Regions from separate parts of the Homo sapiens genome. Here region 1 is linked to region 2. Evidence: fine-mapped expression QTL. Tissue or cell type: whole blood. Region 2 holds a variant in brackets; the other region holds the start of a gene. All regions are shown on one strand. Distances are between the middles of the regions.

Region 1 (8,143 bases), 32 kb after region 2:
GGAGGCTGAGGCGGGCAGATCACGAGGTCAGGAGATCAAGACCATCCTGGCTAACACGGTGAAACCCTGTCTCTACTAAAAATATAAAAAAATTAGCCAGGTGTGCGGGCACCTGTAGTCCCAGCTACTCGGGAGGCTGAGGTAGGAGAATGGCGTGAACCCGGGAGGCGGAGCTTGCAGTGAGCCGAGATCGTGCCACTGCACTCCAGCCTGGGCGACAGAGTGAGACTCCGTCTCAAAAAAAAAAAAAAAAAAAAGAGGGAGGGAGAGAGGGAAAAGACAAGAGGGATGGAGGAAGGGAGAGAGGAAGAGAGTGAAGGAGAAGAGAGGAAAGGAAATGAAGGAGAGGGAGAGACCCGGAGAAGGAAGACAGACACAAACTCTGGTTACTTGCAAAATTACATCCCTTTAATTCCTGGAGTAGACAACTGCCTATATGGTATGTCTCCAAGAACTCTGAAAATGGGCTCTTGCATTTGCTCTTTCATCCTCACCTGTTCAAGAGGTTTTTTTTTTTTCTTTTTTTCTTTTTTAGAGACAGGGCCTTGCTCTGTCTCCCAGGCTGGAGTGCAGTGGTGTGATTATGGCTCAAGCAATCCTCCCACCGCAGCCTCCCAAGTAGCTGGGACTACAGGCACACACCACCACACCTGGCTAATTTTTTTTACTGAAGAGACAACGTCTCACTATGTTGCTCAGGCTGGTCTCCAACTCCAGGGCTCAAACGAGCCTCCTGCCTTGGCTTCCCAAAGTGTTGGAATTACAGGTGTGAGTCACTGTGCCTGGCCAACAATTTCCTTTTTTTTTTTTCTTTTTTTTATTGAGACGGAGCCTTGCTCTGTCGCCCAGGCTGGAGTGCAGTGGCAAGATCTCGGCTCATTGCAACCTCTGCTGCTGGGTTCAAGCGATTCTCATGCCTCAGCCTCCCAAGTAGCTGGGAGTACAGGCACGTGCCACTATGCCTGGCTAATTTTTTTGTATTTTTAGTAGAGACAGGGTTTTGCCATGTTGGCCAGGTTGGCCAGGCTAGTCTCGAACTCCTGACCACAAGTGATCCAACCACCTCGGCCTCCCAAAGTGCTGGGATTACAGGCGTGAGCTACCGCGCCTGGCCAGCAGATTCTTAAGTTTTGGAAGGAAGAAGAGAAAGGACTCTAGGCACCTAAAGGCGGTACGTAAAGGATAGCAGGTGGCTGAGCACAGTGGTTCATGTCTGTAATCCCAGCACTTTGGGAGGCCAAGTTTGGGCGAATCACTTGAGCTCAGGAGTTTGAGACCAGCCTGGGCAACATGATGAAACTCCCCATCTCTACAATTTAATTAAAAAAAAAACAAAAAAACGGATAACAGGTAACTAAAAAAGAAAAAGGTGGCTACAAGACTGTATGCCTTCAATTGGCAGAGACCGTGTCTTATATTTTGTATGTATGCTTAATACAATGTACCTAGGACAGTTCCAGGCCTCATTAAACATTTGCTTTTTATTTTTATTTTTATTTTTTTTGGAACAGAGTCTCGCTCCATCCCCCAGGCTGGAGTGCAATGGCGTGATCTCGGCTCACTGCAACCTCCACTTCCCAGGCTCAAGTGATTCTCCTGCCTCAGCCTACTTGTGGGATTACAGGTGCTTGCTACCATGCCCGGCTAATTTTCGTTTTTGTTGTAGTTGTTGTTTTGAGACGGAGTCTCACTGTCGCCCAGGCTGGAGTGCAGTGGCACAATCTTGGCTCACTGCAATCTCCATCTCCTGGGTTCAAGCGATTCTCCTGCCTCAGCTTCCTGAGTAGCTGGGATTACAGACATGTGCCACCACGCCCAGCTAATTTTTGTATTTTTAGTAGAGACTGGATTTCACTTTGTTGGTCAGGCTGGTCTCGAACTCCTGATCTTGTGATGTGCCCGCCTCAGCCTCCCAAAGTGTTGGGATTACAGGCGTGAGCCACTGCGCCAGGCCTTAAACATTTGTTGATTGGCTGGACAATAAAGAACTTGCTTTAGAAGGAGGAGAGGACAAAAGAAAAAAAATGGATAGGATCTCTTTAGTTAAGTTTCAGCCACAGAACCTTTACTGGGACAACTCTTGATCACATGTCAAACTGCTTTCATTTGGGGCAAGAGGATAAGGGGAAGTTGCATGGTGGGAAGTGCAGAGATCTGGAAGACAGAAGATTTTACTAAGTCTCTTCCCCCAGAAATAGCAATGAAAAACAAATTTACTTGTATTCTGTCTGTTTTCCTTTGACTTGCCAGTCTGTCAGCTTATATCTTAATTATCTATCTCTGCTCCCTGTCTCTATTATTGTTTTTTCCTCTTTAATAATGATCAAGTCCAAAGAAACGTGAGAAGCCCTGTTCCTAGCACCTTTTCCTGAGTCACCAGGGACCCCCTCTTTCTCCCCCAGGGAATTACTGGGAACAAGTCTTTCTCATTGGGTCAGACTCCACACAGCACTAATATGGCTAAAAGCCAGAGTAAAGAACCAGGGAAAGCTGGAGTTTGGATGAGTCTGGTTAAAGTCCATCCTAGACAGTCCAAATGCCCTGACCCCAAAGGGGAAGGCCCTTCTCTCCAGCAGAGCCAGATTTTATGCAAGACATTTAGTATGTCAAAGTATCAGTCTCTGGCCTTGGAGGCAGGTCTTCTGGGCCCCGTTTTAGCTCCTCCCCTGGGTGATCCAGGTTAACTGAGCTCTCCACTCCTTTGTTCCCCCAAACTTTAGACCTTTGACCTAAGAAAGCAACCAAGAAAGGTCAGTGCAGGACTGGGAGCTCTTGAGGACACAAGAATTAGAGTAAAAGGAAGGGGAGAGTGGCATTAAACTAATAGATTCAGAACTGTAGCCTTTCCCCAGTCCAACCCTTCACAGATGGGTAACGGGGGAGGGTCCAGGTCCCTCTCCAACGCGAGTTCTCAAGGGCCTCCGGTTCCAGCCTGGCCGAGGAGCGCCATCTGGCGGCCAACCCCCCAACCTGGATCCTCTGCCCCATCCGACTTTCTGAAGCCCGAACTAGATCTGGGCTGGAGAGTTTCACCTCCTCTGCGTCACTCCGGGGACTCCGCCCTGCCAGGAACGCTCCTCCTCAAGCGGGGACAGGCCCAAGCGCCTCCCCCGCAGGAAAACTGCCCATCCTCCCTCTAGGGTAGACTGCTTCTCCAGTAGAGTCGGCTTAAAGCTCCCCCCAGGGATCCGCCCCGCCTCGTCGCCCACAGAGCGCCCGCCTCTCCCCAAGGGGCATCTGCCCCTCGTCCTCCAGTTTCCCCTTGAGGAGGGAGAGAGAACGTGCTGCACTGCGCCCCCAGGTTCAACCTCCAACCCGGTCCCTCCCGAAGAATGGATTCCTCTTCTCCTTCTCCTCCCCTGCCTTATGGGAGCCTCTTCCAGTCCACAGAACCCAAATCGAGGTTACTAATGAGCTCCCCTTCTTCGTGCCCAGGGGACCCCTCTCGGCCTCAGGCTCTGCTCCCCTGAGCTTGGCCCATGGCCCCGGCGCCCCTGGGACTCGGCCCCAGCCATCTCACCACCCGCGCCAGGGGGCGGGGCTCCCACGGCCCGGCCCCGGGTGGGCGGGTCTATCGTGACGTCACTTCCGCCCGGGCCTGGCCGAGGTTCGGGCTCCGTTGGCCGAGGGGGCCGTACGGAGGTGGCAGCTGTGGGAGGAGGCGGCGTGGAAGGCCGAGGAGCTCAAGCCCGGACCAATCCCCACGTTCCGGGCCGCGACCCTGACCCTGCAGCGTACCGGGAAGCGAAACCGGCCGGATGGGCCGCTGAGCCCGAATCGGGCACTGGTGAGGCTCGGGCAGAGCTGGCAGCCCCGGACGGGAGCGGGCCCACGGGGCTGCAGGGTCTGGGAGCCCGGGATGCGGGGTGGGGAGAGGAGAGGCTCAGGCCTACCTCTCCTGCTCGCCTGGCGGGGAGGCGGGAGCTAGAGGAGTCGCAGACAGGCGCGGGGGGCTTAGTGAGGCCCGCCTGGGGGAGGCCTGAGTGTAAGGAGGGGGCGGGGTGACTGGGGTCATTAATGGGGCGGAGGACCTGCACTTGGCATTCTCATCTAGAACGGTGTCGTCGGCGGGAGGAGGGGAGAGTATGCTACCGGCCAGAGCTTTGGGAAGAGGATGGCTCTGAGTGGGGGAGGGAAAAACCGAGAGGGTTGGAAAAATTTTCCATGGCCCTAATTGAGAAAGAGGTTTGAAGAGCCCTTCCCTCCCTAGAGGGTTGTGTGGAACACCTGGAGTAGGGTCTCCCTGGAGTTTAGGGGGTCAGTTACAGGATTTGGAAAGGACAGTGCTCTGAGAGTCCCCACACTGAGTGGGTGTGCAAAACCCTGGCCACCTCCAAGTATCTGAGCTTCCATATCTTTCCAGTGTGGAGCCCCCTGGAGCTGAGATCAGGATGTTCCGCTTCATGAGGGACGTGGAGCCTGAGGATCCCATGTTCCTGATGTGAGTATTCCCTCCCCCTCAAGCTCTCCCACTCCAGGTCTCTGAGCAGTTCAGGCAGACATCGGGGTTCCCATTGCTAGGAATGGTTGGAACTGGCTGGATACCTAGCTCCTACCTAGCAGGAAGTAGGCATCGGTGCCACTGTTGCTCTGTGCGTATTTTTTTGCAGGGTGGTGGAGGGATTGACAGTTTGGCGCTTCTGCCATCCATACTATGTGCTCACTCCACAGGGATCCCTTTGCTATTCACCGTCAGCATATGAGCCGTATGTTGTCAGGTGGCTTTGGATATAGCCCCTTCCTCAGCATCACAGATGGCAACATGCCAGGGACCAGGCCTGCCAGCCGCCGGATGCAGCAGGTAATGATGCTGAGACACACCTGAGACCCAAAGAAAGGTTGGAGGTTAGTTAGGAAAGCACTTAATTTTCTTGCACTACAGCCAACTGAGCAAGTGAAATGCTCTAGGAGTTGGGGAAAGGGTCAGGAAAAAGGGCTTTGTGACTCCCTTTTGAGAGGATGGAAAAAAATTGAGGCCATGGGCCTGGTTTGGGATTGTAAAGAGATAGGATGTGGTCTCTAATTTCTGTTCCTCATGTGTTCCTGTAGGCTGGAGCTGTCTCCCCCTTTGGGATGCTGGGAATGGTGAGTCTTTATCTCCCTGTGTCCTTCCATCTCAGACACACTCTCTACCCTTAGATATTATTCCCAAATGTGCCTCTTAGGAATAGTTTCATGAGTAACCCCAGAATCTTCTCTTTTTATGGCATTCACAAAGCTCTGAGCCTGTTGGGTACTAGGAGCCCTGTGGGTTAAAGGTGTTAAACTCTTGTTGGGAGGCCGAGATGGGTGATCACTTGCAGTCAGAAGTTCGAGACCAGACTGGCCAACATGGTGAAACCCCGTCTCTACTAAAAATACCAAAAAAGCCAGGCATGGTGGCACACACCTGTAGTCCCAGCTACTCTTGAATCCGGGAGGTGGAGATTGCAGTGAGCCGAGACTGCGCCACTGCCCTCCAGCCTGGGCAACAGAGCCAGACTCCATCTCAAAAAAAAAAAAAAGAAAAGATGTTATTAACTGTTGTACTCCTAGAAGTTCATACGCATTAGGAAGATGTAATTGTCTAGCAAAATTTGTTCTTTTGAGGAGGGAAGTGCAGTTAAAGGGCCAACTAGAGATGATTTTTTGGTAGGTTTTAACAATTTCATGCCTTACCTCTTTAGAGTTTAGAATCCATTACTTTGGCTTGCTTCCTAAAGATGGGGGGAATATAGCAAGCAGGAGAAGGAAAATTGGATCACAGCAGTCACAGAGACTGAGGAAGGGGTCAGCAGTTCACAGGAGGAGAAATATGAGTATTCTGGTTATTTTAACAGAATGAGAAAGAGAACTTGCTAGATGTGAAGGAAGAAGAGAAAGGAAATGTGCAGCCATGTGGGTTGTGGGTTCCTAAACAGGATCAACTCTGAACACTGACTTTGCTTTCCTGACTCTGTTTTCCATCTCTTTCCTCCAGTCGGGTGGTTTCATGGACATGTTTGGGATGATGAATGACATGATTGGAAACATGGTGAGACTTGCCCCATACCCTTCCCCGGCCTTGCTCTCAGTGATGGCTGACAACACCTTGCATCCTCTAAGGCAAGAGGGAAACAGTATGCTAGTGAAGGGTAAAGTACTGGATAAAGTAATTGAACCAGAGAGCCTTGGGACCCTGTACCTGCTGTCATGCCTGCCTGAAGCAGCCGGCAGCAGCTCTCTTACGTAGCATACAATTAAGGCCCTGTCTCTTCAGGTCCTTCTTGCTCGTGGTTGGACTCAGAGGAATTTGGGAGGGTAATGATGAGGCCTGATGTTTTTTCAGTTCTTGCATTTTGTGAGAAAGATACAGGCTAGAACAGGCAGCTGAAGGGTGAAATCCCTTCACCAGGGGTGATGCCTCCCCATTCAGCCCTCCCCTACCTACCCTGTCCTCAGGAACACATGACAGCTGGAGGCAATTGCCAGACCTTCTCATCTTCCACTGTCATCTCCTACTCCAATACGGGTGATGGTGCCCCCAAGGTCTACCAAGAGACATCAGAGATGCGCTCGGCACCAGGCGGGGTGAGTTGGGGAGCCCTCCTGTCCCAGAGAAGGTAGGATTGAGCGGCACCGCCAGAAACCCTGGCTGCTTTTTTCCGGATTGGGTTGTGTGTGGTGTGTTTATCCTGAGATGGTATAGGCAGGGCTTTGGAAGGGGCGGCTGAGTGTGCCACGTTCTGCCTCATCCCAGATCCGGGAGACACGGAGGACTGTTCGGGATTCAGACAGTGGACTGGAGCAGATGTCCATTGGGCATCACATCCGGGACAGGGCTCACATCCTCCAGCGCTCCCGAAACCATCGCACGGGGGACCAGGAGGAGCGGCAGGACTATATCAACCTGGATGAGAGTGAGCCTTCCCTCCCGCTTCCTGGCTGGCAGCCCCTAACCCGGTTCCCGTGGACATCCCTAACACATAGACACTTCTGGGGCAAAGCTCTGGGTCAGCCCCATATTCCTTTTTTTTTTTTTTTGAGATGGAGTCTCGCTCTTGTTGCCCAGGTGCCCAGGCTGGAGTGCAGTGGCGCGATCTCAGCTCACTGCAACCTCCGCCTCCCGGGTTTAAGCAATTCTCCTGCCTCAGCCTCCCGTGTAGCTGGAACTACAGGCATGTGCCACCACGCCCAGCTAATTTCTGTATTTTTAGTAGAGACAGGGTTTCACCATGTTGGGCAGGCCGTTCTCGAACTCCTGACCTTGTGATCCACCCACCGACCGTTGGCCTCCCAAAGTGCCGGGATTACAGGCATGAGCCACTGCACCCAACTGTCAGTCCCATATTCTTACCGCACTTGGAGCCTCCTCCGCTCGGGCGGAGTCAGGTGCTGGCGGTGTCTTTGTGAGGGGCCTACTTTGTCCCTGAAGTTCCGTATTGATAGTGTTACACCCTTCTCCACCTTGATCCGTTTCTTTCTCCCCTCTTTATCTTTTTCAAATCCGCAATTATTAAGTACCTAGTGTGCACATAGGACTGTGAACCTGAACTGAAGAATAATCCCATTCTGATTTCTTCCTCCAGTAGGCCACCTTACGCCTACCGGTGGCTTCCTGGGACCGTGCAGAAACCAAAAGAGCTAAGGGAATTGCCACCCCACCCATCCCTGCACGCACACTCAGCCTTCGCCGCTTTGGCCCGAAAAGCTGTGGCTCGCTCGCACATCGGCCTCCAGGAGCCAGGCCGCACACAGGCCTCATGTCCGCTCTGTCCTTTCCAGGTGAGGCCGCAGCGTTTGATGACGAGTGGCGGCGGGAGACCTCCCGATTCCGGCAGCAGCGTCCCCTGGAGTTTCGGCGGCTTGAGTCCTCAGGGGCTGGGGGACGAAGGGCGGAGGGGCCTCCCCGCCTGGCCATCCAGGGACCTGAGGACTCCCCTTCCCGACAGTCCCGCCGCTATGACTGGTGAGGGCCCCGGGCCCTCAGCCTCTCTTGTAAGTATCAGGAGTAAGGAGGGTGGGGTGCACCTGCGGACGGTCCTCGGCTGCAAGGCAGGCTCAGTTCAGGCTCCCGCAGGAGCTGCCTTTGGTAGTACAAGTTGACATGGAAAGAGAACAATGTTCTCACTGACATAGGGGATTAAACCCCAACTCCTGGCTCTTAACGTAAGTTTTTTCTTCC
Region 2 (8,189 bases):
GTAGCATATAGTACTGTGTGCTACTTCTCATTTCATGACACACCGTACTCAAGGGTTGAGATTTAATAAAATTAGTATTTACTGCTTCATTAAAGGCATTCTATATATATATATATATATATTTTTTTTTTTTTTTTTTTTTGAGAGGGAGTCTCACTCTGTTGCCCAGGCTAGAGTGCAGTGGCGTGATCTTGGCTCACTGCAACCTCTGCCTCCCGGGTTCAAGCAATTCTCCTGCCTCAGCCTCCCAAGTAGCTGGGGCTACAGGCATGCGCCACAATGCCCAGCTAATTTTTGTATCTTTAGTAGAGATGGGGTTTCACCATGTTGCCCAGGATGGTCTTGATCTCTCTTTTTTTTTTTTTTTTTTTTGAGACAGAGTCTTGCTTTGTCATCCAGGCTGAAGTGCAGCAGCATGATTTCGGCTTACTACAACCTCCGCCTCCTGGATTCAAGCCATTCTCCTGCCTCAGCCTCCCGAGTAGCTGGGATTACAGGCACCCGCCAACATGCCTGGCTAATTTTTGTATTTTTGTAGAGACAGGGTTTCACTCGTTGGCCAGGCTGGTCTTGAACTCCTGACCTCAGGTGATCCTGATCTGCCCGCTTCGGCCTCCCAAAGTGCTGGGATTACAGGCACGAGCCACTGCGCCCGGCCTCATTAAGGGCATTCTTAAGTAAAAGTGGCATTAATTTTTTTTCTTTTTTTACTGTAAGTACCTGGCAGTGAAGAATGCAATGACTATCATATGGTTTGGCACCACTGCCTTCATTTATGCTAAGGCAGCAGTTTTATCCAGATTGTTTTTGCAACATTATTGCAATGTCAACATAGTGACAAAGGAAAATAACATCCTGTATTTTTTTATGAAAATAGCTTGACCTTGAAGATCCCCTGAAAGGGTCTCAGGGACTCCCAAGGGTCTGCAGGCCACACTTCACTCTGAGAACCACTGATCTAGGTAATTTTTATTCATTCTTCAGATCTCAGCTATCGCTTTAGCTGTCCCCAAAGTCTATTTTCTCCTTCTTGGTAATAGAACCCTCAATTTTTAGCTGAGCTCTTAGCTACCCAGATTTAAAATATACTTCCCAGCCTCCCTCACAGCTGGATGTGTCCAAGTGACTCAATTTTGGTTAATAGATAGAAGTGAAAGTATTAGGTGCAACCTCAGAGTTGCTCCTCAAAGTGGGGAAAATGTATCCTCCTCAGGCCTTCTTCCTTCAGACTAGAAAGCAAACACCCTCCCTATTGTTCACAGCCAGTCTGCTTTTCTCATTTACATTACCTGGCAGGCTCTGGTAGGCATTGATGTTTTGAGCCCTGCTCCATTCATTCATGTACGTAGTTAAGCGTGTACCAGCCCAAGGCACTCTGCTAGGTAGCTGGGGATGTGATGTTGAAGAAGACAGATATGGTCACCACTCCAGCTTATGACATAGACACTAAACAACGAACAACTTCATTACAATTCGACAAGCGCTACAAAGGAAAAAGCACAAGGTGCTGGGAGATCTTATCACAAAAGAACCTTCTTTCAACTGGGAGAATTGTCTATCGGTAAGCACTGGGTTCTGCTACAAGCAAAAGAAAACCCAAAATAATAGAGGCTTCAACAAGATTGAAGTTATTTTTCACATGTAGGAAGTGTGGAGGTGGGTGGTGCAGAAGAGAGGGAGCAGCACGCCGTCCTCCAGGGCCAAGATTGGGGCTGTTTATATTTTGTTGCTCTACCATTCTCCTGCACAGGACTTCCTCCCCAGAGTCTCAGAGGATACTCAGGTTCCTCAGTTGAAATCAGTTTTCCTTGTGATAAGATCTCCCAGTCCCCTGTGCTTCTCCCTTCGTAGCAATTTTCCAGTTGCAATGAAGTTATTTGCTGCTTAGTGTCTAGCTCACAGGCCAGAGCGGTGACCGTGTCTGTCTTAGTTAGCACTATGTTCCCAGCACCCTCACAGATGCCTTGGCCCTGGAAGACCCTTAATGCTTGTTTAATATTTTCCTAATATATTAAATTTTATTGATATTAAATTTATTGCGGTAAAATACACGCAACATAAGATTTTCCATTTTAAGCTTTTTTTTTTTTTTTTTCCAAGACGGAGTCTTACTCTGTCCCCCAGGCTGGAGTGCAGTGGCACAATCTAGGTTCACTGCAACCTCCACCTCCTGGGTTCAAGCGATTCTCCAGCCTCAGCCTCCCGAGTAGCTGGGACTACAGGTGCCCGCCACCACGCCTGGCTAATTTTTGTATTTTTAGTAAAGACGGGGTTTCACCATGTTGGCCAGGCTGGTCTCGAATTCCTGACCTCAAGTGATCTGCTCACCTTGGCCTCCCAAAGTGTTGGGATTACAGGTGTGAGTCACCACACCCGGCCATTTTAGGCATTTTTTAATGTACTGCTCTGTGGGACTGAGTACACTCACATGGTTGTGTAACCATCTAGAAATTTTTCATCTTCCCCAAATGAAACTCTGTACCCATTAAATACTGACTCCTCATTCTAACTCCCTGCAACTCCTGGCTATTGAATAATATTTTTTTTTCTTTTTTCTTTTCTTTTTTTTTTGGAAACAGAGTCTTGCTCTGTCGCCGAGGCTCGAGTGCAGTGGTGTGATCTCGGCTCACTGCAACCTCCGCCTCCCAGGTTCAAGCGAATCTCCTGCCTCAGACTCCCGAGTATCTGGGATTACAGGCGTGCGCCACCAAGCCTGGCTAATTTTTGTATTTTTAGTACAGACAGGGTTTCACCATGTTGGCCAGGCTGGTCTCGAACTCCTGACCTCAAGTGATTCTCCTGCCTCTGCCTCCCAAAGTGCTGGGATTATAGGCGTGAGCCACTGCACCAGGCCAAATAATTTTTGAATGGATAAATAGAGAAGTATGGACAAGAGCAGGAGAGCAGGGCTACAAATGTAAATGCTTACAGGAGCCCCCTAGGTAGTGCAAATGAGAAAGGTACACTGGTGGTGACCAAAAGGGAAGGGTAGGGACTGGGGGAAACCAGAGAGTACTTGCCTCAGCTAGTTAAGGGCAGCCATTCCCTGCATAGCTGTCTGAGTTGACCGTAGAGGCTATACTGGCATGTGAGCCTAGAGTTGCCTGCTCTGCCAAAATTTCTAGAGAAGGTGAAAACCAGACATTTATGTAATACCTCCTGATTTTAATATTGGTAACAAATTTTTTCAACTTGTCGTGACACTGGGTAGAGCAAACAGAGCATTCCAAGGGCTGGCTCTAGCTTTGGGCCCACCGGTTTGCAGATTCCAGACCCGATGGACGGTGTGAGAACTT[G/C]CAGCTCTGTGAGTCTGTGGCCTGGAAGTCAACGGTCCTGAGAACCTGGCTCTCTCTCTGGGGTTTCCAAACAGGAAAAGAAAAAAGGAAGAGAGAGGGTGAGTTTATAGTAAACATTTGGCATTGTTGTGTGCTTTATGTGGTTGTATCTTTTATTTAATCCTCATGAGAGTGATAAGACATAGGTATTATTGTCCAGGCCATACAGATGAGGAAACTGAGGCTTGAAGAGTTTTTTGTTTTCTTAGACAAGGTCTCGTTCTGTCACCCAGGCTGCAGTGCAGTGGCACGGTCACAGCTCACTGCAGCCTCAACCTCCAGGGCTCAATCTATCCTCCCGCCTTAGCCTCTCAAGTAGCTGGAACTACAGGCATGTGCCACTGTACCCAGCTAAATTTTTTTTTCCCCTAGAGATGGGGTTTTGCTATGCTTCCCAGGCTGATCTCAAACTCCTAGGTTCAAGCAATCCACCCACCTCAGCCTCCCAAAGTGCTGGGATTACAGGCATGAGTCACACTGTGCCTAGCCGAAGAGTTTCAGTTGTCAAAGGTCTCAGAGCTAGTAACCACAGCTGGTGGAACCGGGATTTGAATTCACCCGCTTGGACCCCAGTTTCTGGGTGGTCCCCCTCATTGCACTGCCTCTCCTCTGCATTAAGAAGGTCCAGGACCAGGCATGGTGGCTCGTGCCTGTAATCCCAGCACTTTGGGAGGCCGAGGCGGGCGGATTGTGATGTCAGGAGATCCAGACCATCCCGGCTAACACGGTGAAACCCCATCTCTACTAAAAATACAAAAACAAAAACAAAAACAAACAAACCAAAAAAAGAAGGTCCAGGCGGGGCGTGGTGCCGAGTGCCTGTAGTCTCAGCTACTCAGGAGGCTGAAGCAAGAGGATGCCTTGAGCCCAGGAGTTCTGGGCTGTAGTGCACTATGCAGATCAGGTGTCTGCACTGAGTTCAGCTTCAGCGTGGTGACCTCCCGGGAGTGGGGAACCACCAGATTGCCTGAGGAGGGGTGAGCCAGCCCAGGCCGGACACACAATGGGTCACAATTTCCATGCTACCCATGCTAATCAGCAGTGGGATCGGGCCTGTAAATAGCCACTGCGCACCAGCCTGGGCAACATAACGAGAACCCACCTCTAAAAAAAAAATAAAAAATAAAAAAAGAAGAAGAAAGGCCAGGATGACAGCTAAGAGAAGTCTTCTCCCTTAGCAGTGGAGGGAGGTATGAGGCCCACTGCCTCACCTGGAGCTTCTGAGGCTCAGCAGTGCCATGGTCCTCACATCTCTAGAGTGGTTTTCCATTTTCCAAGCACTTTCACATTCATTTGTACATGCCAGACCTTTTTGGTAGGTGTTGCTGTTACTATCCTTACTTTACAGAAGAAGAAATGGAAGTCAAGCTGTCTGCCCCCATCACATGTCTGAAAGCATGGAACAGGGGGAGTTCCAGAGGCTATTTTTGCTGCATGTATCCTGCCTCTCTAGGCTGTAGAACGGGAGGAGGCCAAGCCAGGGGAAGGAGTGATGGGGAAGAGAGAGAAGCCGGTGTCAGAGGCTACAGACAGAGTGCTGGAGACTGGATGATCTGAGAGGCCTAGGGCAGCCAGGGTTGCAGGAAAGTTGAAAGCCCCAGGTGCAACTCTGCGGTGGCCTCCTTACCAGAAGTATCTTTGGCAGCACTGACGCCCTCTGCAAAGGGGGCTGGGGGCAGGGTTTGAGGATGGGGAGCAGGGGAGGGGTCTTTGGGGCTGTTCTCTGGGAAGCAAAGTCTAGGAGCATCGATGCCATCTCTACCCCATCCACATTTCCCCTGGCTCCAGGACCACTTTTTGCCACTCTCAGAGGGTGGTTCTGGGCCTCCCCTACCCCACGGGAAGTTTGAGTAGGCACGTTTCAGAGCTCAGCCCGGGCTCAGACAGCTGACACCTGCAGCCCCTTGGAGAAACTGTCAGCCACAGAGTGGAGCAGATAGAACCGACCCCACCCCAAAGCAATTCCCTTCAAAGGAAGAACCCCACCCTGGGGTGGGCCTGTGCGGGGGACCCTAAGCTCCTTGATCTCCTCCTTTGAAGGAGGGATAGCAGCAGGGGCTCAGGCCTGAACCCTAACATCTCTACCTGGTAGGGGAGGTGGGCAGGGAAATTTCTGGGCCTGCAGAGGCTCCTCCTCTGCACTATGGAGCTGAGAAGACCACGTCAGGGGTAGGGGAACCGCTGGCAAACCCGACTCCAAGGCTGAATGTGCACAGTATGGCCTCCTACCTCACACACTCGACTTGCCAAGGCCCTGGACCTCACTTGGCTTCCAGAACTTCTGGAGAGTGGACAAGAGAAGAGGGCTGGGGATGGAGATGCTCAGAGACGTCCCTTCCCGTCTCTTGGCCTATCTCTGTTTCAGGCACTGCTCCCCACTCTGACAGCCAGGCTGCAAGATGGCCCCCAGTGACTCCTGTCTCCCTCAGTTCACACCCTTGCATTGCCCCCTCCTGCTTGCACCAGGTTGGTCTCTGTGATCAATAGAATAGGGCAGAAATTATGGCACGTTGCTTTCAAGATCAAATCTAATCTTGAAATAAAGATGTGGTAGCTTTTGTCTTTTCCACGCTGTCCCTCTGGGGGAAGCCAGTTGCTGTGTCGTGTTGTGAGAGGCCCCATAAAGACACCCACACAGGGAGGAGTTAAGGCCTCTGGCCGACAGCCTCCCGAGTGAGCTGTCTTGGAGGCAGAATCTCCAGCCCCATCCCAGCCTTCAGATGGCTCCAGACCTGACCCTCACCTCAGCAGCAACCTCATGAGCAACCCTGTGCCAGAACTACTCAGCAAGACTGCTCCTGGATTCCTCGTTGTGTGAGATAATGTTTATTATTATTGTTATTATTCTTTTTAGACACAGGATCTCACCCTGTCACCCAAGCTGGAGTGAAATAGCACAATCATGGCTCACTACAGCCTGGAAATCCTAGCCTCCAGTGATTCTTCTCCCTCAGCCTCCTGAATAACTAGGACCACAGGTGCATGCCACCGTGCCCAGCTCATTTTTAAATTCAAAAAGAAAAAAAAATGGTAGGCTGGGTGTGGTGGTTCACGCCTGTAATCCCAGCACTTTGGGAGGCCGAGGCAGGCGGATCACGAGGTCAGGAGATCCAGACCCATCCTAGCTAACACAGTGAAACCCCGTCTCTACTAAAAACACAGAAAGTTAGCCGGGCGTGGTGGCTGGCGCCTGTAGTCCCAGCTACTCCAGAGGCTGAGGCAGGAGAATTGCTTGAACCCGAGAGGCGGAGCTTGCAGTGAGCCGAGATGGCACCAAACTGCACTCCAGCCTGGGCGACAAAAGCAAAACTCTGTCTCAAAAATAATTTATTAATTATTAATTAAAATACAAAAATTCAAAAATTAGCAGGGTGTGGTGGTATGCACCTGTAGTCCCAGCTACTTGGGAGGCTGAGGCAGGAGAATCGCTTGAGCCCGGGAGATGGAGGTTGCAGTGAGCCGAGATCAAGCCACTGCACTCCAGCCTGGGTGACAGAGTGAGACTCTGTCTCAAAAAAAAAAAAAAAGTAGAAGTGTGATCTCACTAAGTCACCCAGGCTGGTCTCACACTCCCGGCCTCAAGCAATCCTCCTGCCTCAGTCTCCCAAAGTGTTGGGATTACCAGTGTGAGCCACCACACCCAGCTTATTATTTTAAATTACTAAGTTTTAGGGTAATTTGTTTGTTATACGCCAATAGGTAACTCACGCACCCCCCTTCCTTCTTAACAAGGAGCTGAGATGATTCCCACCCACCCACCCACTGAAGCTCCCTGAGCTCGTGGCCTCCTGATGCTCCTTCCCCTCCAGGACCGCAGCCTGGAACACTGGTTTACAGATCAACCTGGAGAAGCCAAATGAATTAACCAAGCTCCCTAGGGGCCTTTGGAGGACAGGAAAAGGGCTGGAGATTATCCTGCCAGACGGAGAGTGGGGGGCTGTGGGAAGAGGAGTGGGAGCAGAATGTCACCCTGAGGAGAGACCCCACAGAGAAGCACTCACGGAATGCAGCCCATATGCCCTTTCTTCCTTCTGCCCTTTGCTCTTCTCTAAGGGGTAAAGGAAAAAGGAGGCCCTTCGTTCTGCCTCTGTCCCCTCCCTGTCCCCTTTATGAAAGAGCATGGGGAAGTCCCCGCATAGGCCTCAGTGAATCTTCGATGACTACTCTCATAAGCCCAAAGGGCATAGGATGTTAGCTAGTAAAAAGGAAAAATGCCACCCACAGAACTTTCCAGGAAACCCCTGCCCTATTAAAATATCAGGGCTTCCACTAAGGCTGTGGGGAGCAGGGTCCTGGGCTGGAGCTGAGGAGTCTCTGAGCAGCAGCGAAGGGTAGGAACGATGCTTTGGAGGCTTCTTGTTTTTTGTTTTTGAGACAGGATCTCACTCTGTCACCCAGGCTGGAGTATAGTGGCACGATTATGGCTCACTGCAGCCTCAACCTCCCAGGCTTAGGTGATCCTCCCACCTCAACCTCCCAAATAGCTGGGACCACAGGGGCGTACCAGCATGCCCAACTAACTTTTTTTTTTTTTTTTTAGAGATGAGGTCTCACTATACTGCCCAGGCTGGTCTCGAACTCCTGGGCTCAAGCAATCCTTCTGCCTCCGCCTCCCAAAGTGCTGAGATTACAGGCATAAGCCATGACACCTGGCCTGGAAGCTTCTAAAAGGACTTCAAGACTTCCTTTTGCAGTGTGATCATCTCTGGCAGGGCCAGAGCTTCCTCCTTCCTGTGCCAGTGTTTCTCTGCCAGTGACAAGGCAAGAGTCATCACCATCCTGAGGCTCAGAACCTCAGATTGCTGTAAATGGTTCATTGTTCAGGCTTCAGAGGGTCCCCCCTCTACCTAAGGC

Evidence for each region. PIP is the estimated chance that this variant, and not a neighbour inherited with it, causes the effect.
Region 1: it holds the start of MLF2, and the variant in region 2 is fine-mapped to the expression of MLF2 in whole blood (TOPMed, PIP above 0.99).

Annotation. Positions count from the first base shown.
Region 1 is chr12:6,748,583-6,756,725 of GRCh38, reverse strand. It overlaps MLF2 (myeloid leukemia factor 2), which reads left to right and starts at 3,585. Exons shown (of 9, transcript NM_001382226.1): 1 at 3,585-3,787; 2 at 4,364-4,441; 3 at 4,672-4,801; 4 at 5,050-5,085; 5 at 5,960-6,013; 6 at 6,421-6,549; 7 at 6,719-6,878; 8 at 7,744-7,956. The coding sequence starts at 4,392. The coding sequence ends at 7,931. RefSeq lists enhancers at 3,029-3,198, 3,229-3,278 and a silencer at 3,449-3,688.
Region 2 is chr12:6,780,106-6,788,294 of GRCh38, reverse strand. It overlaps the pseudogene RN7SL380P. Among named protein-coding and RNA genes, the nearest start is that of CD4, 5.3 kb to the left of the region's middle. RefSeq lists a silencer at 1,218-1,512. The variant G/C (reference allele first, on the strand shown) is at 3,297.